Linked DNA regions of Homo sapiens. The protein of the gene in region 3 interacts with the protein of the main gene of each other region in a pairwise test. Each region holds a gene or a part of one and is shown on either strand. Other genes may lie near its edges.

Region 1 (7,774 bases), on a different chromosome or scaffold from region 3:
TCATGTTGTTCTCGCGACAGTAAGTTCTCATGAAATCTGCTGGTTTTATACGGTGTTTTTCCCCCTTTTGCTCATTTTTCTCTCCTGCTGCCATGTGAAGAAGGACGTGTTTGCTTCCCCTTCCACCGTGATTCTATGTTTCCTGAGGCCTCCCCAGCCATGCTGAACTATATGAGTCAATTAAACCTCTTTCCTTTATATATTACCCAGTCTTGGGTATGTCTTTATCAGCAAGGTGAGAACAGGCTAATACACCATGCTACAGTGTTTTCAAATCCGTTGGAGGGTGGGAGCACAGACAAAATTGTTTGTGTTGAAAGCTGCAGTTCTTACGGGCCAAGGTTGAGGCCCAGTTGAGAAGAGGGCTCAGGGGAGCCTGACTAAAGTTTGGTCAAAAAGAGAGTCTCTGTGGATGGGTGGGTGGATGGTAGATAGATGACTGATGGATGGGTAATTGATAGACAAGGTATACCCGTTGGTGGGAAGGGTCAAGATGATAAGATCTAAAGGCATCCAAATTCACATAGGAAGTAGAAATCATTTCAGAGAAAAGGGGAAACTCCTTGACTCTTTTCAACAACTCGTTTCAAACATGTGTGTGGTAGATATTATAAGCCTCCCACTTGCTCATAAAAACTGCTAATGGGAACAAGCAGATACTCATCTAGTCCTTCCAAACCTGCATTTGTTTCCTGTAGGATATTTTCGAGGAATGAGTTTGTTTGCTTACTGTTGAAAATTCGTATTAGAGACCAATCCTGAGCTTACAGAAGGATCTCCTATGGAGCTGATGCTATCTGTTCCTATTAACATTTTATTAATGAAGCATCTTTCAATAGTTTTCCTTCCTTTCCCCTTGGCATCCTGCCTCTGAGAGGAGGAAGAGCTTTAACCCACTTTCCTCCCTTCCCCAACCCGTTTCCACTCTTCTCCACCTCCAGCTCACACACTGATCCAAAACAATCCCATGTGTGTGCGATCACGAGGCAAAGAGCTAGTTCTCCAGGTATGTGCCTGATTTCAGTGGCTCTATACAGCCCTAGGTTATAGCAGTTTGCATTTTCTCAGCAAGTCAACTATGATATTGTACAGATTTTTTTCATCTTTTCAGATGACAAAAATTAAACTAAGAATAGGCAATTTTATAAGTTAATACTTGAACACAGGTTTGAAGACAGGGATAGATTCAGGGTCTGTGGAACCTTGGGTTTATATAATTGGGGGGTGGGAATATAGAAAGAGTACTCTCCTTATTTAAAAAAAAAATCCAAAAGTACAAATACAAACTCAGGGATGACCACATGAACACACTGCCAGTGCCCCTCCCAGAGGGCTCCAAAGAAGCCTCTGTGACGGAGGGACCTGAGGCTTAGGTTCATTAGCTCCCCAGTCGATCTGCCTCTGCTGGAGATAGAAAGGACTAGAGAGGTTTCTGCCACAGCATTCAAATCTCTAGAAAATCGCTAAGCATAACAGTCTTCTATTACATCAATCCCCCAGATGCTATTCTTACCTCTCTTTCACAAACCACCATCCCTGCTGTTCCCTCCAATTTGGCAACAGCAATTCATTATAAAAGTGCGTATGCCGGAGTGGGTTTCGGCATCCTCCTGGATTTTGGCTTTAACAGTCTAGTTCCGTGTCAATTATGTAATAGCCCAAACAGGGAGTTTAATGGAGTACCAAAAGCACAGTCATAGCTCTTACATAAGCCTTCATAAACCATCCATAAGATCTGCTCCTAGATTTGGATATTTGGGATTACATAAGGGAGACAGAAAACACTGACTCAGAGGCCAGGTTTCTTTCTGACCTTAAAAACAATAAAAACTTTTTGCACTTAATTTACTAGTTTATAGTAAAAGTTTTTAATTTGATATGGAAAATAATCTTTCCTATGACTTACTTTACCGTGTAAACATAAATGAATATCCTGCCACTACTACTCAACTTTCATTGGTACTTCTGCAAATGAAATATATCACTTAAGATTCCCGTAAGTATTCTACATGGAATTATGGGTCCCTAATAAACATCAACTACTCTTCGCAGGAAAATCAAGAAAGAGCATTTAGACAAAACACAAAAGTCTACATGCTGTAATTCTCTGATGTGTCCCCTTTCCAATACCATTTTTTTCTTCCCATGTTTCTAACAACGTATTTTTGACTTACCTTAAACCACTGTAGCAACACCATAGGCTACAGAAAGTGACAATACAATGCTCCACAATGGGTCTCACCCCTGGCTACACGTTAGAATCACCAGGAAAGCTTTTTAACATTACAGGTATCAAGGTATCAGCCCAGACCAATTAGAACAGAATACTGGGTGGAGGAGGGACAAGGGCTGTTCCCAGCCATCAGTATATCTGATGTTTTCTACTTTTGTATTTTTACCTGAAAAAAATAGCCATAAATGTGAGTACTGGTTTTGGGGCCTGGGGAAAGGGAAGGGAAAGAGAGACACATCTTTAATAACTGGCAACTCACAATTACTAAGTTTCCATCAGAGATAAAAATAAAATCATTCAATAGTTTGAAAACTAGAAAGTATACATGTAGGATCTTTTTATCAATAAGTAGTCAAAGAATTCTCACCAATTCCTAATAGACTTTACAAAACCAATTTTTTAATGCTTTACAATTATACCTAATGACTTTTTTAATATAGGGTCCTATATTATCTTAAAAGGGTACCTCAAGCTAAGACCACTGCTTATCTCCAAGTAAACTAAAAGCATGACACTCTCTTCTTAGGTGCTCTGGTAATCACACATAACTTTACCAATGAGCAAATTTTTTTAAGCATTTATATAACAGAGAGTACAGGCGCCTTTGGTATCCTGCCAAGAGTACTTCTTTCCGTGTTTGTATTTAAAATAGAATGGTAGTAACATCACTTGTGTGCCTGTAATTCCTTCTGTGCACAGGCACAGAATGAAAAAAAAAAATGGATGTAGCAAGCCGCTTCACTGCTTTACCATTATAAAGCTTGAAGGAAATAACACACTCATACTAAATTAAGACGAAGACTCAGACCAAATTATCCAAAGCTGGGGGTGGGTAGGGGAGAACTCGCCTTAACTAACCTACCAACGCCTCTAAAGCAGTGGGTGTTGAACCTGGCAGCAAGCGAAGGTGCCAAAAGAGCTGCAGTCCCTAAGCCAGAGCAGGTGATGTGGGCAGGAAGCATCAGCGCTCTGGAGACGAGAAGCCGAACCAGCCCGGCGCTGCCCCGAGCCCGGCTGCGCGCTCCCCAACTCCGCTCACCTGTCTCCGGCGGGTCCAGAGGGCGGCAGCAGAGCCAGCCGACCCCACCGGACCGCGCAGCAGAGGATTCGCTCACCTGGGTCAAAAAGAGCCAAGAAAGATGTAATGTCCAAGAGGCCACCACTGCCCTCACGGAGACGCTCATCTCGGGCCGGGTTCCGCCACGCTGCTTCCTCCTCCTCTCCAGCTCGAGTTTTCTATTTACCGACAGGTCTGTACTCCGCTAAGCGGTCAAGGGTTTCCGCAGAAGGGGGGAGATAAACTTGCCCTGAGAGCCGGCGGCGGCGGCGCAGGTGGAGCGCGAGGGGCGCCCCCGCACCTGGAGCCGCCGGCGCTCGCTATCACCTCTGCCCGCCCACGCCCGCGCCGCGGCTGCGCTCCGCTCCGCGCCCCCGCACTCACCTCGGCGCAGGCACCGCCCAGGCCGCCGCCCCCGCTCGAGGGCCGGGGCGCAGCCGGGGACCGGAGCCGCCCGCACGACGCCCAGGCGCTCCCGGCTCCGCCGCGGCCGCGGCTGCTCCTCCAGCCGCCTCGCCTGGACAAAGAGAAGCCGCGGGGCCGGCGGCCGCCCAGCCCAACCTTCGCAGCGCGCCACGCAGCCGGCGCGCCTCGCCCGCGAGGTGCCGTCCGCGGTGACAGTGGCCGGGCGGCGAGCGGGCCCGAGCGGTAGGCGGCGCGGGGCAGCTGATGCGCGCACCCCCTCCCGGCCGCCCGGAGACGCACTCGCCGAGACCCAGGCGCCTCCTCCCGGCCCGCGCTCCGCGCCCCGCGCCCCGCGTCGCAGCTCCGCAGCCGGGAGCCGTAGCGCCCTCTGCCGACGGCCCCTGCGCCCGCTCCTGCGCGCGCGCCTGCCCGCCCCAGCCCCAGCCCCAGCCCCAGCCCCAGCCCCAGCCCCAGCCCCCGCCCCCGCCCCAGCTCCCGCCTCAGCCCCAGCCCCAGCTCCAGCCCCAGACCCAGACCCAGACCCAGCCTCCGCAGGCGGTGGGCGCGGCGCGGGCCGCTGCCCGCTGCGCGGCTGGTCACCGTGGTGCCCTAGCATCGGACCCCAGGAGAAAGGAGTAAGAATGAGTTGGCCGTTCCAGGGCAGGCCTCCAGGAATGGGTTCCGCTGTTTTCCGCTCAGAACAGAAGAGGGAGCCGCTTCGAATTAGGCGCAGCAGGAGGCATTGGGGTTCAGCATCGGGAAGAACTTTGGAGGACGCTAGGGTGCCTGATTCATAGGAGCCCAAAGCCAGTCTCTGAAAAGATTTGCGCAAAAGGCAGGCGTTTCTTTCTAGAAGCAAGCTTATTTCTATGTTTAATGAGCACCAAATGTGCCTCCCCACTGTCCGAGGGGTTCCAGCGAGCCTTGACTGCTCTTATGGTAAGGTAAATAGATTAATTAATGATTTCTCAAAGACCTTTTTCCAGTCCTACCTGAAATGCTCAGACTCCCTCACGCGGTGCACCTGGAGGTTTGAAAAGGCAAGCGAAACCAGAGGACTTCTGCAGACTGATTCAAACAGCAATGGAATAAACATTTACCATTATAAAGATGAAACGATGTTGCTGGTCTTTGCACTATTTAGGTTGGCGTTTTTTGTTTTTAGGGGATGTCTTTCCAAACCACTGTGTTAACCAATACTTTATGACAGTTAATTTTTTTTTTTAACCAACTGGACTACTTGGTGAAGGGAAATCATGAAATGGCACTTTTTTTTTTCAGACCACTGTCTTTAAAAATTATTCCAGAAGCTCTCCCTTCTCCCCTGGAAGAATCTGGGGCAAATTTCATAGCTTTTCCTGTCACTTTCAGGTGTTCATAAACAGTCAGATTTGCTGATAATAAAAAGTCCAGCCCAATCCAAATCAAAACTTTAATCGCAATCCATTCAAGCCTTCCCCACTAGCCTCCCACCACCCACCAGACCCCAACCTGACCCAAGCTCAGAAGCCTGCAAGGAGGAGGAAAACGACCTTCGCTTCCTGCTTCTGTGTTCTCCCCAGCTAGCTCTGTGAAGACGGGTTCCACCGCCGGGCACGGAGGCTCACGCTTGTAATCCCAGCACTTTGGGAGGCTGAGGCCGGTGGATTACTTGAGGTCAGGAGTTCGAGACCAGCCTGGCCAACATGGTGAAACCCTGTCTCTACTAAAAATACAAAAATTAGCTGGGTGTGGTGGCGTGCACCTGCAATTCCATCTCCTCAGGAGAATTGCTTGAACCTGGGAGGTGGAAGTTGCAATGAGCCGAGATCATGCCACTGCACTCCAACTGGGCGACAGAGCAAGCCTCTGTCAAAAAAAGAAGCCGGATGCGGTGGCTCACGCCTATAATCTCAGCACTTTGGGAGGCCGAGGTGGATGAATCACGAGGTCAAGAGATCGAGACCATCCTGGCCAACGTGGTGAAACCCCGTCTCTATGAAAAATACAAAAAGTTTAGCTGGACATGGTGCCACATGCCTCTAGGCTCCTCTACTCGGAGGCTGAGGCAGGAGAATCGCTTGAACCCGGGAGGTGGAGGTTGCAGTTCACGGAGATCGCTCCACTGCACTCCAGCCTGGCGACAGAGCGAGATCCGTTTCAAAAAAAAAAAAAACACTGGTTTCTCAAGTTGGGCAGGGTGGGGTTCTGACCCTGCAACTTCAGCCTCAGCTTCACTGGTGGTCAGCCTCATTCAGGCCCTCTGCAAGGCACCATGCCCTGGCAGTCAGTCCCAGCTACCTTCCACCACGTGCGTGCTGACCCACGGACACCAACTGGCATTTGGCCCATCACGCTATAGAAGTGCAGGCCACTGTCACTGCAGTTCTCTTTTCTTCTTCTCTGGTCACAGGTAACTCTGACCGGCCTCTTTCCTTGAAGCTTCTCAGCCATCTCTGGGTTCATGCATGTCCCCACACTCCAGGTGACACATGCCAGGCTCTCCAAGTAGTTCTTTGGAAGCATGCCTTTCTTTGCATGAAGTGGGTGGGTCCTCCTTCTCCCTGTCAGCACCGTGTCGTTCTCATCTTCTCCCTTGATTGCTCTCTCCTTTCCTTCAATTTGGTCTGAAGGTGGCAGAACCCCAACTTAGCAAATCCTACAAAGATGGTCCAATACCTCCATTTATATGGATTTATGTGTGGGGATACCTATCTGTGTGGTGGCATGGAGGGAGGTGATCCCCTGAGATCTTGGAAGCTTGAGCAACTGACAGCCTTCAGCTGTCACACATTTGGATCCACCACAGAGCTCATACCAAGGTCACACATTCCCCAGCTGTTTCCAGCTCACAACGGAACATGGTGAGAGCGCTAGAGCTATGCCCTTTCTGCCTCTAGTGGGCAGTCTTTGCTCTGGAATTCCTACCACCCTACCAGGGCTTTCTCAGAATGTGCTGCAGTCTGGAGCTCTTCCTACCCAATCTTCTTCCCTTCCCTCTCTCCATTCACAAGTGTCAGACCTGTATTGCAGTCAGAAGGCACTCCTCACCTGCATGCCAGGCTCCTTCTCCCTCCTGCACTATCCTGCACAGGTGTTTTCTTTAAAATATTTTGGCACATCTAATCCTATCTTGACATCTGCTTTTCAGAGGTCCCAAACTGTCATAGTTATCTATTGGCCCACCTGGCAGCATTCCAAGATAAGTCTTATTTTAACAGTTGGTTATGCTGTATTTAGAAACTGTGAAAAGAACAATGGCAAAATCATGGAGCCAACCTGAATGTCAATGAACAGTTGACTGGATAAAGAAGATGTGGTCCATATATTAATGCATCATGGAATATTATGCAGCCATCAAAAAGAATGAAATCATGTCTCTTGCAGTGACATGGGCTGGAGCTGGAGGCCATTATCCTAAGTGAAGTAATTCAGAAACAGAAAACCAAGTACCACACATTCTCACTTATAAGTGGGAGCTAAACAATGAGTACACATGGACATAAAGATGGAAATAATAGACACTGGGTCACCAAAAGAGGGGAGGGTGGGCAGGGGGCGAGAGCTGAAAAATTACCTATGGGGTACAGTGTTCACTGTTTGGGTAATGGGTACACTAGAAGCCCAATCTCCAGTATGCTCATGTAACAAACAGGCACATGTACCCCCTGAATCTAAAATAAAATTAATTTTTTTTGAGATGGTGTTTCACTCTGTCACCCAGGCTGGAGTGCAGTGGCACAATCTCAGCTCGCCACAACCTCCACCTCCAGGTTCAAGTTATTATCCTGCCTCCGCCTCCCGAGTAGCTGGGATTACAGGTGCATGCCACCATATCCAGGCTAATTTTTGTATTTTTAGTTAAGATGGGTTTTCACCATGTTGGCAAGGCTGTTCTCGAACTCCTGACCCCAAGTGATCCGCCCGCCTCAGCCTCCCAAAGTACTGGGATTACAGGCATGAACCACCGCGCCCAGCCAAATTAAATTAAAAAAAAAAAAAGCTGTGAAAGGAAGAGTAGAATGTTCTCTTGAATTAAATATATATATATATATATATATATATATATATATATATATGATCAGCAAGTATCATAGTGT
Region 2 (7,621 bases), on a different chromosome or scaffold from region 3:
CCACGCGCACAGGCCAGCTCCACCCAGGCCAGGCTCTGGGCAGATGGCTGGGCTCCTGGAGGGGCTTTACATCTGGGCCGTGGCCTGGCCCTGAGAGTACCCCTCTGGGCCTCAGTTTTCCCACCTCTGAAATGGAGAGCGGACGGGGAGGAGGGCGGCGCTCACCGTGCTTCTGGTCCAGCAGCTCCATCTTCTCCAGCACATCCTTGCGCATCTGGGAGAAGCGGGCGCGCGCCTCCTGGCGGCAGCGCAGGATCAGGCGGTACTCATAGTTGCCGGTGCTCACCCGGTAAAGGGGCTCGCCTAGGGCCTGGGGCGGGGGTGGGACAGGAGTGCCTGCTCAGGGACGGCCTCGCACCGCACTGTGCTTTCAAAGCCACGGCTGTTCTTCATTCCTGAGACCTCATTTCTGAGACTTCAGTGTTTCTCAGAAGCACTCAGTGATAGCTTTGAAGAGAGGAAAAAACCAAACCCAAACCTCTGCCACATTCAATGAACACTGGCCACGAAATGGATCCCGACAGCAGAAAAATCAAACACTTAAAAGCGCCTCATAGGAGTGAAGAAAATCCGATTTCCCTCCAAGAGTCCCCCAGACTGAGGGAGTGGTTCCCGGCCGGGTGCCCAGCACCCCGAGGCCCAGCGAGCGGGACTGGGAAGATGGCCCTAAATCTCCAGGAACGAGAGTCCAGCCAAGTCCCCCCGGTCTCTCCCGGGTTGGCCTGAGCCACCTGCTATCCCTGGCAGACCAGGTGGGGGGAAGTACAAGCCCCCCACCCCCTCCAACACTCACAATGCAGCTGTATTCCTCGTCATCCATCTCCTTCACCTTCAGGCAGTACGACTGTGTGGGACAGGTGAGGCTGTCAGAGTGGCTACTACCCCCACCCCAGGTCCCCAGCTCCACCCCCATCACCCACACGCAGCAGGAGAGGCTGGCGCAGGTGTTCAGGGAGTCCCAGAGCGGGCAGCGGCAGGTGCTGAGGGATGACAGGGCCTGAGGCTTAGGCGGCCGAGTTGACCAAACTCAAGGCCCAAGAGATGCTCTGGGGAAAAAGGGGTCTGTCGTTAAAGGAGCTTAGGAAGACCCTTGAAAATTCACACTGCACATCAGCCTAGCAAAGGCTCTGATAAGTCCTGCAGCAAAGGAACCTTGGCTTGCTTAATAGAGCATTTTCTCTCAATTCCTTTGACTGTAGAATAATTAAATGTAAAACTCACGAACGTTCACTGACACCCATTTTATGCTCACTCACCTAGTCTAACCCATTGTTTAAAGGCAACAAATCCCAAGGGGTCAGAGTGCACACAGCGAGAGCCATGCCCGCCCCAGGCTCTCAGATGCTTCTTTGTGCAGGCGCAGCAGGGCTTTGGCTGCACCTCCCTGGGCCTCTGGGCCCACACCTGGAGCAGACATGCTGTCAGCTCTGGCTGGCCTCGCTGGCCGCAGCATGGCTGACTGAAGTGGGGCAGATCTCCAGGGTGGGCGCTTGCCCTAGCAGCCTGGGCACCTGGACTACTCACCAGGTACTCAAACTTCACGTCCAGGTACTTCTTGATGGTGAGGCGAGTGTCCGGGATGGCTTTGTTGAGGTACGTGTTCAGATCCGTCAGCATCTGGAAGAGGGTGGGTGGATGCTGAGGCTGTCACGGCAGGGGTGTGCCAGGGTGACAATGAATGGCACTGATGCGTCACCCTTGTTGGTGGACTCGACTATCAGAGCCAGATGGTGCTCCCTGATGCCTTGTCCCTCTCAAGGATGAGAAGACTAGTGCCAGGCCTAGGGCAAGCTGTGACTCAGTGGCGAGCCAGGGTCAGAAGCCAGCCCAGAGGTCAATGGCAAGGCCCAAGGGGGCACAGTGACTCACCCACAGTCCACTGTGTGGGTGACTGAGCCAGAGGCTGTACCCAGGCACAGGACTCCAGCATACGACCTTCTCTGCATGCCACACTCTCCCCTCCCCACCCTCACACGCCAGACACACACATGCTCAATAGGACCTACCGGCTTGATGGTTTTCAGAAGCCGAATGCCGAACTTCTCGATGCTGCGGTGGGCATCGGCGAACTTCACAAAAGCCTCGCTCGCAGCTGGCTGGGGCTCCCGCACCCCGATCACGGAGAACACGTCCCCAAAGGCTGCAGGACAAGTTTGCCTTGAAGGCTGCCCCTACTTGGCCCCCTAAGAGAAGCCAGGGGTTTGTTGGGGAGAAGCAGGGCAGGGGGCCTGGCAGGCTGGAAGCCAATGTCTGCACAGGGGCTACACCTCCAAGAGAGCTGGTCTAAACCCCCTGAAGGAGCTGAGTCTACACCTGGAGGAAACTGGATTGACACCTCCAAGAGCTGGTCTGTGCCCCCTAGAGTCCTGAGTGTACACACCAAGGGAGTTGGCCCTCATTCCCCAGAGGGACCAGTGAGAGAAGACTGGGTCAAGGTTTGTGGAGGTGGCGCCGCCTGAGGCAGAACACTGGTCCGAGTCTAGACACCTGGATTGGAACAACAGCTCCACCACTTGGGAGCAGTGTGGCCCTCTCCTTTGTCTGGGCTTCATTTTCTGCAGTAGCTGGGGTCAGCTGCAGTCGGCCTGCCCAGAGTTACAGGTTGTCAGAAATATAAATAAGCAAGGGCCTTGTGTACTGCCAGTGGCAGTGTGAGGAGACAGGGTGGGGCCTGTTCATCGTTGCGGCCCTTAAGAGACCAGCTGATCTAGATGTTCCCCGCAGGCCCATCGCAAATCCCAGCACCTGGGACCAGGCCCAGCCCAGAGGGAGCCTGAGGTCAGGCGCTGTGGGTCTGACCCACCTCAGCATGGGAGTGAGAGGCCCCAGGGATTGCCCACGGTCACACCACAGCTTTGGGGGATGCCATTACCCCGGTGAGTCTGCGACAGCTCATAAAAGGCCCGTAGGAGGTTCTTGGTGTGTTCCGTCATCCCTGTGGGAGAGACCGAGTGATGCGGAATGGGGACGCATGGCGGGGACCACACTGGCCCAGGGCAAGGCCTCCAATTGCCCATGCCACCCAAGGCCTCTGCTAGGCCCTGATACATGGCCTTTCCCCACCGCCCAACCACAGCCCAGGGGTAAAAGCTCAGTCCGACCCAACCCGTGAGGAGCCCCATCAGACAGGGGCGCCAGCATTTTGTAAGATGCAGGGGTACACAGCCTGCTGTGGGCTTTAGCCCTGGGACAGTGTGGGATTCCGGGGGACTCTCGCTATGTTTACAAGTGCTATTCTCTGAATTTTTATGAGTATCAGGTTTTGTTTTTTTTGAGATAGGGTCTTGCTCTATTGCCCAGACTAGAGTGCGGTGGTGTGATCTTGGCTCACTGCAACCTCTGCCTCCCTGGTTCAAGCGATTCTCATGCCTCAGCCTCTCGAGTACTGATTATAGGCACACACCATCATGCCTGGCTAATTTTTGTATTTTCAGTAGAGATGGCGTTTCACCATGTTGGCCGGGCTGGTCTCAAACTCCTGACCTTAAGTGATCCGCCCACCTCAGCCTCCCAAAGTGCTGGGATTACAGGCGTGAGCCACTGCACCAGGCCCCTGAGTTATTTTTAAATTCAGAAGAAGTATATATTCTTAAGAACTCTTAATGCCCATGGTCCTAGTATTTTGTAGGCTGGCATTCCTAGTGCCAGCACCCCTGTTGCCACTCTGCTGAGAGCATGCTCCCTGGGGTAGAGCTAGTGCCAGGACGAGGCCACCCCCCACCCACCTTTGTATAGCTCAGCGGTCCGCTCCAGCTCCTCTAGCCTCTTGACAAGCCCATCTGTCGGGATTCAAAGAAGAGGGGAGGTCAGTGGGCTCAGCAAGCCACAGGAGGCCCAGGGCCATGCTGGGGAGGGGAGAGGCAACCCCAGAGGAGAACCAGGAAGGGAAAGATCAGGGGTCCCAGGGAGGGGGATTTGGCAGCTCGGGTCAGCTGGGTTCAAAGGTGTTTTGTAAATGACTAGGCCCTCCTCATGGCCAGCGGAGGGTCCGTGCCTAGCAGGCAAAGCTCCCACACTTCTAACACAAAGCCTGCTGACAGCTGGGGAGGAAGGCTGGCAGGGGCCATAGGAATGGAGATGGAGCAGCCAGGCCTCTAGCGCAGGAAGGACATGGTCTCTGCCTCCCAAGCACACAGATGGCTCAGAAGGGAAAACGCAACTTGGGGAGGGAGGGGGAAATTCAGGAAGGCTGAGAGAGCTCACACTGGGAAGAGGCCTTGGTGATCAGTCATTGGCTTAGTGTTTCTTGAGCACCCACTGTGTGCCAGCCACCATGTCAGGCTCACTTTGAGCCAAGTCTTGCTCTCAAGGCTGAAAGCCCAGCAGAGAAGCCAGCCCAGTGGCCGGGCGATGGACAGCAGTGTGATGGTGAGGGCTGCAGGGGAGAGGTGGGGCAGTCAGGTGCTCTCTGCTCCCCAGCCTCCTGTGTTGACCTGGGTCAGGGTTTTTTAGCAGAAGAGGGGAGGAGCGGAGGCTGTGTTCAGGCCTCTCTGGGCAGGGAGGTGGCAGTGCGACAGGCTGTCGGGGAAGGAAGGGAGCAATTCAGAGGTCTTGGGGAGGCTTTGGCCACCCGGTGGCCTCCAGGCCTGGGTTCCCCAGAGCCTTAGCACCTGGCCAGCGGCAGGAAAGGAGCCATGTAAGCATCGTGTTGTTGTTTTTAGCTGGGTCATGGGACATCATGACAGCTTCAATTTTAGAAACCCTATTTAAGGCCAGGGAAATTGCAAGGTTTGGGGGGAAAAACACAACAACCAGTTCTAATTTCATCTCAACGGCTGGTAACTACAGTAACAGGGATTTATAGGCACGGCACCAGGAGGCTGAAAATAGCAGCCGCCACTTTTGTACACCATTTGGAACAAGCTCAGTCCCCACCCCCACTTCCTTAGCCAATAAAGCCCAGTGTGCCCAGCTGAGCCTACAATTTCTAGAAGTATTTATATCTACCCCACAGGCACACTGCAGAGCTGCTGCTATTTTTAAACTCGGACTGGCGACGGTAGGAGGGGGACTGAGTGTTTCGCTGGCCACCCCAGGGAGGGAAAGTGTGTGCGCATGTGTGCATGCGTGTGTAAATGTGCATGTACACGCCTCCCCCCTCGCCTGCGCAGCCACCACGAAGGGAGGACCTGCAGAGGCAAGGGCAGCAGCACCACCTCCTGGACAAAGGAGGCAGGAGGTGGGCCGCGAGAGTGCTGGGGTGAGGGGTAAGGGGCTGAGGGCAGGGGCAGAGGCACCTCCCCACACTAAGTCTATTTTCCCATCTGTGACCTGAGGGGCACTGGCTAAGACAGCCCAGCTGACAGCTGTGGACCCTCCGGGAGCTGGAGAGGCCTCTGGGGGTACAGAGATGGTGACTTCTCAGTTCCACGGGCAGAGGCCAGGGTCAGACCCGCGGGACCCACAGCAGCTTGGTGGGCAGCCATGGTGCCCCCCACTCTTCTCAGCCTGGGCTTGAGTCCCCGGGGCCCCAGCTGGGTGGGAAGGGACTCACCATTGCACAGGATGGCCCGGCTCAGGCCCAGAGCATCTGCGGTCCCTGAACTCATGTTCTCCACCAGCCGGTGCTTGACTTTCTTCAACACTGAGCGGGGGACAAAGGACCTGGTGAGTCTGTGGCTGCCCAGAGGCCATCCCTGCCCCCAGCCTTACCTCCATGCACAGGGAGCACCCCACAGGGGGCAGAAGGGCTGCTGGGGGTGGCTGTGAAGTGGGGAATGTCCAGTGGGGAGGTCCTAGGCCCCTGCCCTATTCCCTCTGCTTCACAGAGGTGCTGGCAGCCTGGGCAGTTAAACATGAAGCGCTTCGCCCAGGGCCTGCTACGCAACATCAGCTGCTGGTTGCTGAGAGCCCAGTGCTGCCCGGGCTCAGCACAGGCTAATGGAAGCCAAGGAGGCCTCTTCCCCTCCTCTGTGTCACATCAGGACCTAGGGTGTCACATAAAGGGGAGGGGGAGAAGAGGGGCCCCTGGGCTGGTTATGTGAAAGTAATGGGCACCATCAATGACCATGAAGCTCGGACCCCAGACTCAGTTACTGCATCTGACCAGCTTAGTCCTAGGAAGGGGACTTAGTCCTGTGTTGGAACCAGAGGGTTTCGGAGGGAGCTCCCAGATAGATCCAGCCTGCCCTTAGCCCCTTGGCCTCTGGCCCTAGGGTGTATGAAGGGGATTGCTGGGCTCCAGAGCTGAGACCTAGGTGTGCGCTCACCAGGGGCTGCAGCGCCCTCTCTGGGTCTCAGGCTTTGATCCATAATGTGAAGCGGCCGGTCCAGAGGACTCGAAGCTGCTGTCCAGCTCTTGAGTCTTAAAGTTTCTACAGAACCGAGGCTCAGCCCCTCTAACAGGAGGGAACTTGTCCCAGGGCGCAGACCCTCTGCCCAATGCCTGAGGTCCAGTTCAGATCCAGAGTCCCCCTGGGAGCTGATGGCAGGAGAGGCCAGGGAGGAGTGCGCTGTGCTAGAGGGCATGAGGCGCCAGGCCAGGGTTAGGCTGCTCTCCCTTTATGAAGAGTGAGGCCCTGGGCCATGGAAGCCGAGGCGCTGGCCTGCAAAGGACAACCCTAGGGTAGCAAGTCCCCAGAGGAGATGGCAGAAGCAGGGAGGTAGGGGTGAAACGCGGGGGAGTGAGAAACCAGGGACAGAGTACAAGAACAGATGCAGGGAGAGCACCGGGAGGCCTCCCAGGCCTTTCAGATTTGCTTGGTCAGAGGTCAGAGCCCACAGCCATGTAACTCTGGATTCTCCTGTCATAAAGGGGAGGGCAGGGCTGGCTGTGGCACTTCTCCTTTGGGCCAGGGCCCATCCAGGGAGGCTGCTGGACACCCGTAACTGCTCTGACCAGCTTACCAATGTCCAGGGACATGCCCTGCTTGGGGTCCGCCTGCAGCTTGTTGTAGTGGATGGTCACCTCCCCCTGGAAGAGCAGCACACACAGACTAGTGAGCGAGGCTCCACACCCTGAGCCCCTTCCCAGCCAAGACTGTTCTGGACTGAGACTCCTGAGCCCAAGGCCGGGTGCGGTGGCTCACACCTGTAATCCCAACAATTTGGGAGGCTGAGGCAGGCAGATCACTTGAGGTCAGGAGTTTGAGACCAGCTTGGGCAACATGGCAAAACCCCATCTCTATTAAAAATACAAAAATTAGCTGGGCGTAGTGGCGCGTGCCTGTAATCCCAGCTGCTCAGGAGGCTGAGGCAAAGAATCACTTGAACCTGGGAGGCGGAGGTTGCAGTGAGCTGAGATCACACCATTGCACTCCAGCCTGGATGACAGAATGAGATTCTGTCTCAAAAAAAAAAAAAAAAAAAAGAATCCTAAGCCCCAGTAAGGGCCAGGCTGAGCGCTGTGACATGGCCCCACCTTGTGACCCTGTCTGATCCCAGGCCCCTCCCTTCCTACTCTACATCCAAGCCCTGGGGAATCAGTGGGGACAGGGCCGGCACCGGGCCCACAGCCTGGCGGTCTCTGATGTCTTGTGCTTCGGCCAGGTCAGGCTCTCCTTCTTCCCTCCCCACGCAAACCACACTCCAAGCCTTTGCCGTGTCATTTCCCTACACTGATTATTCCCTCCTCCACCCCAAAACACCCCATCCCCAGGAATCCCTCTACTCATCGAACAGC
Region 3 (8,572 bases):
AGGCCATTTCTCTATTCCACTCCATTTTTCTAATGTTTCCAGTCCTTGACGGTTTTTAGCCTTGAATTTTCTTTCTTATCAACATCTCTCTGTGTGTGTCTGAGCCTTCACGGGGACCTTGAGTTGCAGGGGTACATCAATTCCTTCTATTTATCAGCTAGCTGTTGGAGTGCCTGTGAAAGAGAGCCTCCGCACTGCTTCCAGAAAGGCCAAAGCTGCATTAGAGTTTCCAGATCCCGTATCTACATTGTCGCTATACAATATTTTGCTTTGCTTAAAGAGCCTCTGCTTCCTGTCCAACATAAATAACTGGAAGAGGCTGAGTTAGGGTGATCAAACAATCTGGTTTGCCTGGGGCTGAGGGATTTCCTGGGACATAGGACTTTCAGTATTAAAACTGGAAATGTATTGTGCTAACCTGAACTAGTTTGTCACCCTAGTTGGATGACTGATTGGATTCTAGCAAATCTGGCATAGATTGGAGTTTTAATGTAGAGCAGTTCCAGCCCGAGTCTGGTACAAGCAGTACTAACACATTTCCCATGTAAAAAGCTCCTCTGGCTAGTGTCTTTTGCACCCAGGTTGTAGCCTTAGAAGAAGAAAACTTCTTGAAAAATTTTAAAAATTAACTTTCACAGTCTTCTAGCTCTTCACTTACTCAAAAGCCTATTCAAGAGTCCTTAAGCATTTTGCCACTGTCATTTGTTTTGAAGATATAAGTGACCTCAAACCTGGGCCTCTATAGCATTCTGTTAACATCTGGCATTTCCAGGATTCTAATATTTGTTCAGTTACTAACAGCTCCTCATTCGCATGCTTCTCAGTTGAGCTATCCTTAAGCTCTTCTCTTCATTTTCTTCTCTTGTAAACAAAAAGGTTTCTACTGACTGAGAATAAATTGTAAGGGGTTTCCTTATTATTAGGTAGAGCACATTTTATCCAAAGGATTTCAAAAGCTAAAATTATTAATTCAACAAATATTTATTGAGCAGTTCCTACGTTATTATTAGCACTGTGTTGAGTGCTCAGGATACAAGAGTGAACAATGCAAGCACAATCTGCTAGTCTAGTAAGGGTTGTTGAGAAGTAAATGAGCAGCAATAGTGTGGTAAAAACTATGAAGGTCAAGTTCCAGAGCTATAGGAGCACATGGGAGGAACAACTAACCCAGATTTGGGGGTCATGCAAGAATAAACAGATGATTAGCACTTACCTGTTCATGTATTCATTTATTAATTCAACAAATATTTATTGATATTTTAACATATATCATGCATTGTGAATGTCATTGTAAATAAGTGAATGTACATATGACATAGTATTTATGTTGAAGCAGTTTCATAGTCTAGAATGAAAAATACATGTAAATAAATAATTATAATATGATGTAGTAAGTGCTATAATAAATGTTACCAAGGAAGATTTCACAAAAGAACTTATGTTTGTACGGGATTGTACTTGACCTGGAAGGTTGAAGAAGAATTTAGGGGAAAATGGTGAAGAAGGGCTCTGCAGGCAGAGACAACAGCCTATGGAAATACATAGAGGTATAAAAGAATATGACCAGTAAGGTAACTACAAGCAATTAGGTGTGGCTAAGGGAAAGGCGTTGTAAACAATGGTAGACAATAACTGAAATGGTAGGCGGCATCAGATCAGAGAAGGCCTTTTATGCCCCTTAAGGGGTTTGAATTTATTCTGGAAATTATGGGAAGTCACTGAATAGTTTTAAGTCAGGAAGTGACCTTTTCAGATTTGTGTTTTAGAAAGAGATCCATAAAGATTGTGAAAGTGGACTGGAGGAAGAGACAATTTCTTTGATCTTCAAAACCACCCTGTGAAGTGAGCATAGCAGATATTTTTCACTCACATCTTATATATAAGGAACGAGGACTAGAAAATGTTAGGTGATTTGCCTAAGGTCCCCTAAGTCATTCCAAAATTGAAGAAAATCAACACTTTGTCCAGATAGCAATATAGGTGGAAACCTCTATGCAGTTCACCTTTGGATTTAATCATCCTATCCTTGAAAAAAAAATCTTTAAAAGCTAATACTGGTTGCACCGTTGATTCCAATTAGTTTTGCAAAATCGATTGGATAGAATTTATGGCATCGTCTGATGATTTGAAGCATCAAATTGCTCCATAATATGCTTTTCTATTTCCTAGACAAAGGTCTGGATCATTCATATTTTTGAATGTTATTCTAAATCTAAGTCTTACATTCTAGGCTGCAAATGAACCATGAAAATAATCCAGCTTTTTAAACTGGAGTTAACAGGAGGCAACTCCTTTAAGAAAGTGACATTTTTATCTTCTTGTGTTATAAACATGTCAAAATTGTCGACACTGGCGCAAATCTGTTTCTTCTGATATTTTAGGGATATTATAGGTGGCAAATAATTGTGAGATAAAGCTTGATTTTGTTTTCTTCCCCTCTCAGTTTTATAAATAAGTGCAAACAAGCCAAGTTATAATTTCCTTTTCCCCAAAAAAAGTCTGCATTCAATACTTAGTTTTTCAGAAAATGTACTAATTATAATAAATATTAACGATTATAAGTTCATAGAAAAACAAAACATAGTCGTTTAAGTTATTCCTGGAACATCTGGATTTTATTAAGAGATGAAGGGTGGCCAGGTGCAGTTGCTCACACCTGTAATCTTATTACTTTGGGAGGCCAAGGTGGCAGATCACTTGAGCTCAGGAGTTCAAGACCAGCCTGGCCAACATCGTGAAACCCCATCTCTTCTAAGAATACAAAAATTAGTGAGGTTTCGTGGTGCAGACCTGTAATCCCAGCTACTCAGGAGGCTGAAGCAGAATTGCTTGAACCCGGGAGGCAGAGTTTGCAGTGAGCCAAGATCACACCACTGCACTCCAGCCTGCCAGCCTGGATGACAGAGTAAGTCTCTGTCAAAAAAAAAAAAAAAAAAAAAACAGACAGAAGTAAAGCATAACAATAAATCTGTACATCTTAGTAGTAAGGGAAGCTCAGTTTACTAATTTTTCCTCTATAACAGCAATTCTCAAAATGCGGTCCCAGGGCCAGTAGCATCTGCGTCATCTGGGACTTGTTAAAAATAAAAATTCTTAACCTGTACCCCAGACTTACTGAGAGCCATGGAAGCAAAAGCAGCAATTTGTTCTTTAAGAAGCTGTCCAGGTGATTCTGCGCTAAAGTTTGAGACACATTGGTGTAAATTTAAAAAGCATGTTTCAGACTACGAAAGACCTGGTTTCAATTCCAACCTTAACTAGATGATTTTGGATACATCATCTAAGTTTTCTGGTGCCAAGGTTTTCTTATCTGGTTAATAACTTATCCTTGTCACTGCCCTTATAAGTATTACAAATACTACCTGATAAGTGATATTGCTCATTTGCTTACTGGAAGGCTTCCCTCTCCAAGTGATTCAGACGCATGCTTAAGTTTGAGAACCATTTGTTTCAAACTTACGGTCTATAAGATGCCATACATTGGAAACAGAATCAGCTACACAATTTGCAAGATCCATTGCAAAATGAAAATGTACAGTCCCTTGTTCAAAAACTGAGAATTTCAAGAGGATGAGAACAGAGCATTAAACTAAGTATGGCACCCCACTAAGCCCAGCCCTATGAATGCCCAGCCTTTGAATGTCCAAAGACAAGTTTCTGCTTCTATCTAATCACACCTTCTTTTTTTAGAAGAAAATAATATAATGCCATGAAAGTAGGCCACATTTCCTCCTTAGACACTGCCATTCTTACCTCCTGAGCTGTTGCCCTCCATAGACAGACATGATCATTAGCTTCCTGGTTTTTGCTCATTCTGTTGTCTTCCTTTTAGCTATTCAAATATATTTGTACCTCAAGACCCAACTTAAGGTCCCTATCTGCCATGAAATCCTTCCTTACCACCTTAACCTACTAATCTGTCTTTTTAAACTTATCTAGTACTTATTTTATACAAAACATTTAGCTCTTTTTGTATATATTGAGTGCTGATCACTGTGGTCATATTGTTTCTTGAGTTTGAATATAAGCATCTTGAGCTTTGAAACAGTGTCATCATTGTACAATGGAAAGGGCACATACTTTTGAGCTCAATAAAGCTTGGGTGTAAATACTCTCCCATTTACTTGCTGTGACTGAAGAAATTAATCAACTTTTGAGTCTCAGAATCTTCTCTGGGAAAATGGGATAATAAAACCTAGTTCATTGGGTTGTTGTGAGGATTCAATAATATATGTAAAGCCCTTGGCATATATAAGGGCTCATCAAATATTACTTCCTCTATCACATGCATGCCTCCATATATCTGATTTTGCTTCAGCCAACATCCCAGTGCTGAGCACAAAGGCAGCATTCACTAAATACTTGCTCATTGGAAGAGATATACATATATCTTCCATTAAATGATAGATATATATTTAATGTACTATTTTACATTCACCCAAGAAGTAAACCAATCCTATGTTGAAGTTTTGTATGTTATCTCTGACTTGTTTGTAAGTTTTTGCCTTCACATGCTGACTTTTGTAAAAAAAAAAAGTCGAATTTTGTAGACTTCATATTTTCAAAGCATTTGCACAGCCATTATAGTATTAAAGACACTCTTAGTGGGTAAAAAGATAGATCTTATTCCCAGTCAAGAAATGGAAAAAACTGGCACTGGTGGCTAAGGAATTGTTCTAAATGACAGAACCAGTGTATTTTAATATACAGAAAAATGTCCAAGAGGCTTTATCTAAACTGAGATCTACTGACTCCTTTTCCATTGTTTTTTCCACTATACCAATCTCTTAGGCAAAAAAGACTATATCTGTAAAGTATACGCAGGAAAAACTATTTTAATTAACTAAAATAGTACAAATGAGTCTATTTCTTTTTATTCTGGGTACAGAGTAGGCACTTGATGACTGGATTAAAAACAGCACATGATATATCAATTGCAGTTCCTGGTTTACAGTTTTAAGTAATCGAGAGTGAGTTATTTAAACTGCTCTTTTTGATAAACATATTTTAAAGAGGGCTTTTTCTCCCAATGAAAATGTAAGAACAAGTTTCATTATTTTTAAGACAATTTCAATTTGGGGCCTAGCACATCATGCTTGAGAGCTGGTTTTTTCCTTATGCAAATGGATCCTTTCTCTAAACTGGTGCAAACCACACTTTGCCTGCCAAACTTATGACTCAAAGGCCCTGAAGGGTTTCTGTAGCCTCCCAGCCACAGCCCAGAAACCATAAGCTGTTTCCACGTGAAACATCCAAACACGGTCTCCCAAGCCTAAGTCTGCTACCATCAAGGCTTCTGTATAAAAGGCAAATGAGGAGGCAGCGCCCCCTTCTGCTCCCACCCCCTTCTGCTCCCACCCCCTTCATGTCAGCAGCAGCCAATCGCTTTTCTCTGTCGTGCAGTCGGCTCCTGGGATTGGCCAGGGACGGGACAGGCGCGGAACCACTGCGCGCACAGGCGGAGCGCGGAGACTTGTCCGTCACGTGCGGCCGCCCGGCCTCTCGGCCTTGCCGCGCGCCTGGCGGGGTTGGGGGGGCGGGGACCAAGATCTGCTGCGCCTGCGTTGTGGGCGTTCTCGGGGAGCTGCTGCCGTAGCTGCCGCCGCCGCTACCACCGCGTTCGGGTGTAGAATTTGGAATCCCTGCGCCGCGTTAACAATGAAGCAGAGTTCGAACGTGCCGGCTTTCCTCAGCAAGCTGTGGACGCTTGTGGAGGAAACCCACACTAACGAGTTCATCACCTGGAGCCAGGTACGGTCAGGCCACGGCGGCCTCTGAACCCCCTGAATAACCGCCTCCTCACTCGCTCTCCTGCGGGGTGGTCTCTCGCGGCCTTGCGGCTCGACGCTGTCTGCGAGGCCCGCGGTGCGGGGCCTTGGCGTTCAGCCTCGCGGGGGACCCCCTGTATTGTTCGCTCGGGGAGCCGCGGGGGCCCGGCCGGCAGCGCCGCTCTCCTCAGGCCGCGGTGGGGGAGGGGCGGCCCGCGCGGGGCGTAGCGGCCCAGGCAGCCCCTTAACGGTCCGGTCCGCGTTCGGAACCGGCCCGGCGTCGCGAGGGGAATCGGCGAGCCGAGGGCGCGGGAGCCTCTTTACTGCACACTCATCCTCCGTCCTCCCGCCCGGCTCAGGGGTTACAAATCGCGGAGGGGACAGGGAGCCCAGGGCCAGGATCATCAACGTGGGGCTTTATAGGAGGCGATCTTTACCTCAGCGACCGATCACCCCCAGTTCCCCCAACATTGCTTTGCATCTGGCATCTTTATGTGGAGAGCAGTCAGGGCAATAGACATACGTTCAAACGCAGGTTACTGCTTATCAGTTGGTTTTAAAAATATATAGAAATTAACAAATTATTCTTTTGAGATTCTGTGCTATTTGTATAATGGGATTATTAGGATTGTTTTAATAAAGTACTAATAGGTGGTAACTTAGTAGTTACTAAATTTCGCTGAACAGTTACCAGCAGAGGGGCATATCGATGTGTTGATTATTGGTTTGATCTCAACTCTGCTTCTAAACAAGCATGACCTTAGTCCAGCCCTTTATCTTGTCTGGCCTAAGTTAAATCTTTCATAAGATGGATGGGTTGCCTAGGTGACCCAAGACCTATATCAGTCCCAAATACAAGATTTTAGGCAGAATGATTATTTACATCCACAGTGCATGTGCATTAGAATACACTCCTAGGCTGTTGGAATCATTTTTATGAAGGAAAGTGGTTAACTCTTATTGTAGATGATCACCTATTGAGGCATATTTTCATATGTGTAGTTCTTGAGAAGAATAAGTGAAAACTACCTGCATAGTGCCTGGCACCTGTTAAGTGCTGAGTAAATGTTATCTCCCGTCCTCCTTTCTTTCCTGTTCTCCTATTATAGGAACTCTTAGTTTTATTTACTTTTGTCTTAACAGGGAGTGAGCACCATATTAAGACCCTGAAGTTTTGACTTCTGTAATACCATAGTTTGCCTTGTGTTATTATTTGTTCTTTTTTCCGACTTCCTTCTAGGATTTAATTTTTGTGTGTTCTTTATGAGCAACTGAGTTATCCTTTTAGCCCCACTCCCTGCTTGGAGTTGAGTAGGGGGGCGTGAGTGTTTCTATTAAGCATTTAATGAATTCTGTACAATTGTACAAAGCTAGGTGAAAATAAGAAAGCCAGCCACTAGCATGTACTTAAAATAAACACATGTCTCATGCTTTTCATCAGTTAGAAGGATTAAAAGTTGACAAGAAGGATCAGTACAGACTGTTACTCAGACACGTATTCGTGTTAGAGATTGGACTGAGATTCTCTCCCCACGAAAGCTGACTTTATCATACCTTTTTGTCTTTTATGGGCCAGAAATAGGGGCTATATATATTGGCAGTTGCTTTTAATCAGAGTATCATGTCAGTGGTAGGCCTATTAAATTCTGATTAGCAACAGTGTTTTAATAACATTCTTATTTTCTGAGTACTGTCAAATGTGGAGAGTTTCGTACTGATCCGTAAATGCATCATTCTATGAGTTCTAAGCCAAATAAACAAGCCACTTAACCATTTTTTAATCCCATTATTAACTTTAAGCTTATGTGTTAACCAATTTTCTAATATGCCAGTGGGACAATCAAAATGTAAGCTCAGTGAGATCACTGTGCCAGAGACACACTAGGTGTTTAATAATTGTTTGATGAATAAATGAGATCCCTCGAAAATGTAATGGAGTGGTAGGAATGATGAAGATAAAATTATATTTGAAATGACTCTTAGAGATCATCTAGGTTAGCCTTATCATTGTATAGATGAGGATTTGAGGCTTGGACAGGTGAGATTATTTATCCATAATTATACAGCTCGCCAAGATTGGAGATAAGACCCTAACATAAGCTTGTCCAACCCGAGGCTCACATGTGGCCAAGGATGGGTTTGAATGCGGCCCAGCACAAATTCATAAAGTTTCTTAAAGAAACATGAGATATTTTTGCAATTTTGCTTTTAAGCTCATCAGCTATCATTAGTGTTAGTGTATTTTATGTGTGGCCCAAGACAATTCTTCTTCCAGTGTGGCCCAGGAAAACCAAAAGATTGGACACCCCTACCCTAATAGATTTCTGAGCTCCCAGATCAGTCTTCCACCAATAGAACTAGACTTAATGCAAGTTGACATCATATTTAGTTTTATACCAAAATGTTGCTTGCCACAAGTCAATGGACAATTCTGAATAAATGTTGTCTAGGGCTAAGCCTAGTTGCTTAGGCAGCTGTCTCATTTGTGCTCTCCATGGATTTTTCTAAAAGCAGTGCTAATACTGAAAAGTAAAACTTTAACAATAATGTTAGGTGGAAAAACCAAAATAAGTTACTTTCATCTTTCTCTTTTCTTTGATGAATAAATGAAACCCTAGAAAATGTAATGAGAGTGGTAGGAATGATGATATAATAGTCCTCAACAGGCTTTGAATTTCCAAGTGGCAGAGACTATATCACACTATATCATATTCGTTTTTTTTTTTTGTGGTAGAGTATCACTCTGTCACCCTGGAGTACGGTGGCACGATCTCGGCTCACTGCAGCCTCTGCCTCCTGGGCTC
Region 4 (7,621 bases), on a different chromosome or scaffold from region 3:
ACTAGTTCTTCTGGTAGGCTTCACTTAACTGGGACTTTTACTCTAGCGTGAGGAGGGGGCCTCCTAAGGAAAGTCATGCTGGGTAAACTGTGCGATGTTACAGAGCACATTGAGTCTGTGGTCATCGTGGTTCTTCTATCTTCACTGTCACCTGTATCCTGTTACACATACTCAGTTCCTAATTGTAAGCTCAATTTTGGTATTAGCAAAAGCATCTGTCAGTTTTTCCTCAATTACTCACACCTCTTCTTGCCTAAATAAAACAAAGAAACAAAGAAAACAAGTGTGGTGTCATTACACGTCTCGGGAGTTCCTCGTCACTGACTTTATATATATAAAAAAAAGAATGCACATGCGGGCCACGTTCACAGATAGACAGATTCACCCGAAATGAGAATGAGGGCCTTAAGGCTGCCGAAAACAAATGGGTGGAAATAGCAACGTTGTTTCCGTCAATTCCAAATGTGCACTGGCTGCGTGAGACAAGCCAATCTCCAATTCCTATGCTTTTTTCATTAAAAAGAAAAAACTATCTCGAGAGGAAAAAGTTCTGGTCAAATAGGAGTTCAGTGTTTGTTATCTGGTAACAGTTTTTTTATCTTCCTACAATTACTTGGGGAAGGAGTGTCTTCGGGGAGGAAAAACTGACACACTGACAAGGCTCCCGAAATTGGACAGAATGGTTAAGGATATAGCTCTTCCTTTTGGGTTTTTCTACCAGTAGGCTTCTAGCACCTGAATTTTCACACACTGCACCACAGACCTTCTCCAAACGCCTCTCCGACCCCACAGCTTCTGCACCCAGCTGCGTCCGCCAGCACGAGGCGCAGTAGGAAACGCCCCAGTGCAGAGTGGGTGACGGCAGTGTGATCCCTGAGGAGGGAGCTGCAGCAGCTTCAGAAGCGGGATGTTCTCTGAAAATACCAACACGATCCATGACATACAGACCTGAATTTTCTCTATTTTTGTGGCGTTTCACGTTTCTCTCAAGAGGATTAATAATTTTGGTGGTGGATTTACGTTAAGAGGAAAGAAGGACCAAAAAAAAAAAATCCCACAGCCACCTGACCTGAAGTCGCTTTCATTCTCATTTAGCCTAGGAGACCGATCAACAGCAAAACCAACCTGGATAAGGCTGAATAAGGATGTTAAAGCCCAAACAACTAGCAAAGGAAAAGTACACAATCGATGGCTTGATGTTACATATGGCTGTAATGTAGAAATACTGTAAACTGCAATTTAGTGTTAATACTGTCAACTAATCAGAGACTTCGGAAAACTGGCAAGGCCTAAACCATAAGGATGAATGAGACCTCAGGTTCTAAGTCTGTCAGTCTGGGATTTACACTGTTCCATGTCTGTAGGCTACACCCTGGAAAACATGCAGAGCCGAGACAGATGAGATAGAAAGTACCCAAAACGAGAGACGAGAGCGTATGTACATAAAAATCCTTACTGGAACCACAGAACTTACTGAATGAGGGCCATTCCTCTTTAAGTTTTCTTTTCATCTGAAAACCCTATTATCTAGCAATAAGTTAAATTAGAGACAGACAGCTCCACTTGCATGAATCTACAGAACAGTCCAGACGCCAGTGTGAGGCTGCTATTCCAATACCAGCACAGCTAGCCTGACTTTCCACTAGTGGTATTTTGGCAAAAATGTCAAAGAGGCGATCAAAGACAGGACAGGTCGTGGGTTTCTCCCTGGGAAGGTCATCCCTCCCTTTCCCTCCCCCACCCGACCCCCAACTCATGGGAAAAAAATAAAGACTGCAGTAGTAGCATCCGCGTGCGCTGCCAGTTCCCCTGGGGCCTTAATTGTTGCCTTCGCCGCCATCGTCGTCCTGCTGGTCGCTCGTCCAGAGCGTGAGGTTGTCGCGGAGGAGCTGCATGATGAGCGTGGAGTCCTTGTAGGAGTCCTCGTTGAGGGTGTCAAGCTCGGCGATGGCGTCGTCGAACGCGGTCTTGGCCAAGTGGCACGCTTGCTCTGGGGCGTTCTGGATCTCATAGTAGAAGACGGAGTAGTTAAGAGCCAGGCCTAATCGGATGGGGTGGGTGGGCTGCATGTGCTCTTTGCTGATCTCGTGGGCTTCGCTGTAGGCCTTCTCGGAGGACTCCACCACCGTCGCCCTTTTCTCTCCGGTGGCCACTTCAGCCAGGTAGCGGTAGTAGTCCCCTTTCATCTTCAGGTAGAACACTTTGCTCTCGTACTGGGTCTCGCTGCAATTCTTGATCAGGTAGTTATCCAGCAGGCTCAGCACATCCTGGCACACAGCCTCCAACTCCTTCTCTATCTTCTCCCGGTACGCACGGACCATCTCAATCTTCTTCTCATTGCCGTCTGCAGATGTCTTCTGCTCAATGCTACTGATGACCCTCCAGGAAGAGCGGCGTGCCCCCACAACGTTCTTGTAGGCCACAGACAGAAGGTTTCGTTCCTCATTCGACAGTGGCTCATTCAGCTCTGTCACCTGCCAGGAGGAAAGAACAGAGTTGTTATGGTACAGATGGTGTCCACTGGGTTAACTGTATCTTTGAGACACTAGAACAGAGCTCTGTTGAGTAACATGATGAACAGAAGGAAATTACTTTGTGTGGGCTGGGGGAAGGGGGCTGGAGGTGGAGCACACACAAGGGAGGGAAAAGTGCGGCTGGATCAATGGATCAACGGTGTCTGAACCCTGGCTTCCTCCCCAGAAAAGGACACAGGCTTATCACGTGTGTTCCACAAAACACTGTCAAGTCTAGGCCTTAGATGAGAGACTATGAGTACAGATGGTCTAACTCAGTGGTTTTTTAGGAAAACGGACTGACAAATTCCTCCTAATCCTGCCCTGTCTACTAAACTTCAGTCCCATCTCTTCTGGATAAGAAAATACTGAGTCAACTTCAAGCTGACTTCTGAGAAACATGGAGGCCTTTCTGCTCATATGCCAACACCATGTGAATTCTAAACCTCAGGGAGTCCAAATAAGGGGCATAGGATTGAGTCTGATCGCTGTGATACTTTAGCAACCCAGGGAACATGTTATTTGTGGCAGTGGGAGTGTCTGACTGAATACAACTTTACAACCAGCAATACAAAAGAACGAGGCGAGCACAGCGCCTCTAGCTGGGCAACAGGAATCAATGCTTCTCCCAAGATGGCCATTTCTCAAGGCTCCCGCCCTCATCACCCCCAAGGCTAATCACTTTCAGAAGACTAAAGTGGCATCTCAAACCAATGTTGTATATTTTTATGACTACAAATAACTGCTTATTAATATCAGCCAATAATACTAAATTTATTTACCTGGTTTCTATAGTATCAGAGTCATATACTATTACATTACTTGACAACCATATGAAATACATTATTATTATTATTATATTTGACACAGGGTCTCATTCTATTGCCCAGCCTGGAGTGCAGCAGCAGGATCACAGATCACTGCAGCCTCAACCTCCCCAGGCTCAGATGATTCTCCCACCTCTGCCTACCGAGGAGCTGGGACTACCAGCACATGCCAACTGGCTGGGGATGGGGAGAGGAGAGGAGAGGAGAGAAGAAAAGTGGTTACTCCCTGTCCCTTGAGTCCCCATTGTTCCGTGTTGATCAACTGCAGCATCTGTATAACATTATATTACATACAGAGACGACAGGTAGGGACCTAGAATCCAAAAAGATCTACTAAACCAAGCTTATCCAACCTGTGGCCCACAGGCTGCATGTAGCCCAGGATGGCTTTGAATGCAGCCCAACACAAATTCGTAAACTCTATTAAAACACTGAGAATTCTTTTTGCGATTTTTTTTTTTTTTTTAGCTCATCAACTATTGTTAGTGTTAGTGTATTTTATGTGTGGCCCAAGGGAATGTGGCCCAGGGAAGCCAAAAGACTGGACACCCCTGTACTAAACTCCTGGGGCATGGGGGAACTGAACTACCAGGAGACTTTTTTTTCTATGTTTGAATCATTATGTTCAGTATGTTGGCCCATGCCTGTAATCCCAGTGCTTTGAGACACCAGGTGGGGAGGACTGCTTGAGGCCAGGAGTTCAAGACCAGCCTGGCCAACATAACAAGGCCCCATCTCAAAAAAAAAAAAATTTTTTTTCTTAAATTATAAACGGGGGGTATGCTTGGCAAAAGTGATTACAGTCATTACTTCAAGCAGCATCTACTCAGAGATAATTAAATCAAAACATAAACCAAATCATGCTTATTAGTTTATGGCAGGCAATTCATTTTCTGAATGAATGATCAGCAAGTGCTACACGCTCAAATATTCTCTAAACTGATTAGTGGTGTTGTTAAAGTTAACATTTTCCTAGACATTACTGATGCTCTGTTTTAATGCTGGACAACGTTACTCCTACCAGCCGTGCCCTCAGTGAAACAGACTCAAAAGAGGGGAAGAATAGGGGGTGGGTACTACTTGAGTTCAGAGCAGAAGGAAACCAGGAAAGAGATGCTTTGCTCCACCACCTCTTGTTCCCGGCACTTCTGCAAACACTCCTCCTGCATGAATAAACACAGGCACCTCGTGTCTCATTCTGCACTGACGATCTGTCATCCAGCAGACCGCTGTCACTCATGCTGAATTCTGATGTGTCCACAAATAACGGAAGATTGGGCTTTTCCCAGCTCCATCATTCGCTAAGCAATCTTGGGGACAAGCCGCTTCATTTCTCTGGGCTTTGGTTTTCTTATCTGCAAAATGGGGATTTCTGCTTCTTTCATAAGGTAATATACAGGTATATCAGACAAATAAGAAAGTCTTTTTTTGTTCTTTTTGAGACATGGTCTTACTCTGTTTCCCAAGCTGAAGTGCAGAGGCATGATCACACCTCACTGCAGCCTCAAACTACTGGGCTCAAGCAATCCTCCCACCTCAATCTCCAGAGTACCTGGGACTACAGGTGTGCACCACCATGCATGGCTGATTTCTTTTTTTTTTTTTTTTGGAGACAGAGTTTCAAAAAGACCTGGTCTCACTCTGTTGCCCAGGCTGGAGTGCAATGGCATGATGTCGGCTCACTGCAACCTCCCCCCAAGTTCAAGCGATTCTCCTGCCTCAGCCTCCCGAGTAGCTGGGATTACAGGCGTGTGCCACCATGCCTGGCTAGTTTTTGTATTTTTAGTAGAGACAGCGTTTTGCCATGTTGGCCAGGATGGTCTCAAACTCCTGGCCTCAAGTGATCCACCCGCCTCAGTCTATGGCTGATTTATTTATTTCTTTATTTAGAGATGGGGTCTCACTATATCAATCCGCTGGAAGTGCAGTGGCACTATCTTGGCTCACTGCAACCTCAGCCTCCCAGGGCTTCAAGCAATCCTACCTTAGCCTCCTGAGTGGCTGGGACTAAGGCACATGCCACCACACCCAGCTAATTTTTGTATTTTTCTGTAGAGACAAGGTCTTGCCATGTTGCCCAGGCTGGCCTTGAACTCCTGGCCTCAAGTGATCCACCCACCTTAGCCTCCCAAAGTGTTAGGATTACAGGTGTGAGCCACTGCATCCAGCCATTTAAAAATTTTTAGTAGAGACAAGGTCTCACTATGTTGCCCAGGCTGGTCTTGAACCCTTAGTTCAAGTGATCCTCCCACCTTGGCCGCTCAGAGTGCTGGGATTACAGGTGACAGCCATTGTGCCCAGCAAAGTCTTCTTGAAAAAGTAAAATGCTACAGAAACATGAGGAACTACTTTTAAGAATACCCTGAATAATTTTCCTTCATTTTAGTTCTCACCACAGGGGATGTCTACATTTCCTAACGATCTCCCAGCTCATCTTCCTGTATCGAGTGTCTCTTCTCCGTTTCATCCTCTTCTCTATATTAAGCGGAAACTGCCTTAGCTGCCTCACATCGCTTCCTTTCCATAAACCCTAGTTCCATACAGCCTGAAAAAAAACTGCCCAGACTTGGCTTTGGAAGGAGCTGAGCCCTTGGGCGCTGCTGCCACCCATCTCTGGCATACTTTACTGAGTGTGCGAATGCTGAAGACAAACCGCCCCGCGGTGCAGCCCTCATGACTGCCTCCAGTGCAAGGAGAGGCCAGCGTGCCGAAGGCCACAAAGATCAAGTTCTGGCCTTTCCCCTAAATCATGTTGTCCTTATTTCAAGGGCCAGGAGCTATTTAAAGCTCAAATTATCTCACCAGTCCTGGGGGCACTCCTCCTGCCACAAATGAAGTCTCCCAGCAGTGCCCAGAGAGGCAATCTGTACTTATGTAAAGTCTGCCTAGCTGTCCCCAGACACATTGGAACAAGGAGATTATGAAATGCCAGGATCACCTTTGGATACAGTAGCTCGACCACATTTGGAACACGCCCAGATGTTCCCTGCCAGTGAAAAACTAAGTTAGAGGGGAAACCCTTCAGCTCTAAAAAGTCTAAAGAAAAGTTGTTCTGAACACCTTAAATCAAAATTTTTAAAAATCCTTTATCCTTTAGATCATAATTACTTGCATAAGAATCTGTTATTTTTAAATTAAAATAAGAGATCCCCACCATATTAGTTTTAAAGGTCAACAGATAACCTCTTAAAAGAACAAGTTATTCTAATAGTGTCTAAAATGATTTAATCAAGACAGAATGACAGAATGACTATTCAATGTGGGAAGATACGGGATCTTGTATCATTTGGGAAGGGAGGTAACATTTTTCAAAACAGTCATTAAATTTGTTGTTGTTGTTTAAACAGAGACAGGGTCTCACTCTGTTGCCCTGGCTGGAGTACAGTGGTGCAATCACAGCTCACTGCAGCCACGCCACAAACTCCTCTGCCTCAGCCTCCAGAGAAGCTGGGACTACAGGCATCTACCACCACGCCCCCTAATTTTTGTATTTTTTGTAGGGACCAGGGTCACCCTATGTTGTCCAGGCTGGTTTCGAACTCCTGAGCACAAGTGATCCTCCAGCCTTGGCCTCCTAAAGTTCTGGGATTACAAACATGAGCCATTCTGCCTAACCTTCTTCTTCTTTAAAAAAAAAAAGAAAGAAAGAAAGAAAAGAAAAGAAATGGGGTCTCACTCTGTTGCCCAGGCTGGAGAGAAATGGCGTGATCACAGCTCACTGCAGCCTCAACTTCTCAGGCTCAGGTGATCCTCCCACCTCAGCCTCCCATCACACCCTGGTTAATAAATTGTTTCTACGAATGCAACACTTGTAAACATGGTCCCCAAAATTTACTGTCATGGCTGTTGGAAAATGTAGAAAGTTTCAGTTTTTATTCCCCAGAGTTGTATGTTCTGCTTAAAAACAAAGTTTCTGCCTTCTCTACTACTACAAGCTCAAGTTCAAATTTCTTATTTTTATTTTATTTATTTTTTTTGAGATGGAGTCCCACTCTGTCACCAGGCTGGAGTGCAGTGGCACAATCCCGGCTCACTGCAACCTCTGCCTCCTGGGTTCAAGCGATTCTCCTGCCTCAGCCTCCCGAGTACCTGGGATTACAGGCGTGTGCCACTACGCCCAGCTAATTTTTGTACTTTTAATAGAGACGGGGTTTCATCATGTTGGCCAGGATGGTCTTGATCTCCTGACCTTGTGATCCGCCCGCCTCGGCCTCCCAAAGTGCTGGGATTACAGGCGTGAGCCACCGCGCCCGGCCTCAAATTTCTTTTGGTGACTTAAAA

Evidence for each region.
Region 1: the proteins of HSF2 (region 3) and MTUS2 interact in binary tests that used the Homo sapiens proteins (3 or more experiments, as listed by UniProt).
Region 2: the proteins of HSF2 (region 3) and PICK1 interact in binary tests that used the Homo sapiens proteins (3 or more experiments, as listed by UniProt).
Region 4: the proteins of HSF2 (region 3) and YWHAG interact in binary tests that used the Homo sapiens proteins (3 or more experiments, as listed by UniProt).

What each region holds. Positions count from the first base shown.
Region 1 is NC_000013.11:28,816,186-28,823,959, reverse strand, and holds the start of MTUS2 (microtubule-associated tumor suppressor candidate 2), read right to left. Parts: upstream 3,622-7,774; 5' UTR 3,349-3,621; intron 1-3,348. UniProt on the Homo sapiens protein: Binds microtubules. Together with MAPRE1 may target the microtubule depolymerase KIF2C to the plus-end of microtubules. May regulate the dynamics of microtubules at their growing distal tip.
Region 2 is NC_000022.11:38,066,996-38,074,616, reverse strand, and holds part of PICK1 (PRKCA-binding protein), read right to left. Parts: intron 6,914-7,621; coding exon 6,847-6,913; intron 6,546-6,846; exon of another isoform or gene 6,469-6,545; coding exon of another isoform or gene 6,210-6,468; intron 5,585-6,209; coding exon 5,495-5,584; intron 3,780-5,494; coding exon 3,726-3,779; intron 2,936-3,725; coding exon 2,873-2,935; intron 2,141-2,872; coding exon 2,007-2,140; intron 1,618-2,006; coding exon 1,525-1,617; intron 845-1,524; coding exon 794-844; intron 311-793; coding exon 166-310; intron 1-165. UniProt on the Homo sapiens protein: Probable adapter protein that bind to and organize the subcellular localization of a variety of membrane proteins containing some PDZ recognition sequence.
Region 3 is NC_000006.12:122,394,080-122,402,651, forward strand, and holds the start of HSF2 (heat shock factor protein 2), read left to right. Parts: upstream 1-5,572; 5' UTR 5,573-5,658; coding exon 5,659-5,751; intron 5,752-8,572. UniProt on the Homo sapiens protein: DNA-binding protein that specifically binds heat shock promoter elements (HSE) and activates transcription. In higher eukaryotes, HSF is unable to bind to the HSE unless the cells are heat shocked.
Region 4 is NC_000007.14:76,327,760-76,335,380, forward strand, and holds part of YWHAG (14-3-3 protein gamma), read right to left. Parts: intron 2,475-7,621; coding exon 1,818-2,474; 3' UTR 1-1,817. UniProt on the Homo sapiens protein: Adapter protein implicated in the regulation of a large spectrum of both general and specialized signaling pathways. Binds to a large number of partners, usually by recognition of a phosphoserine or phosphothreonine motif.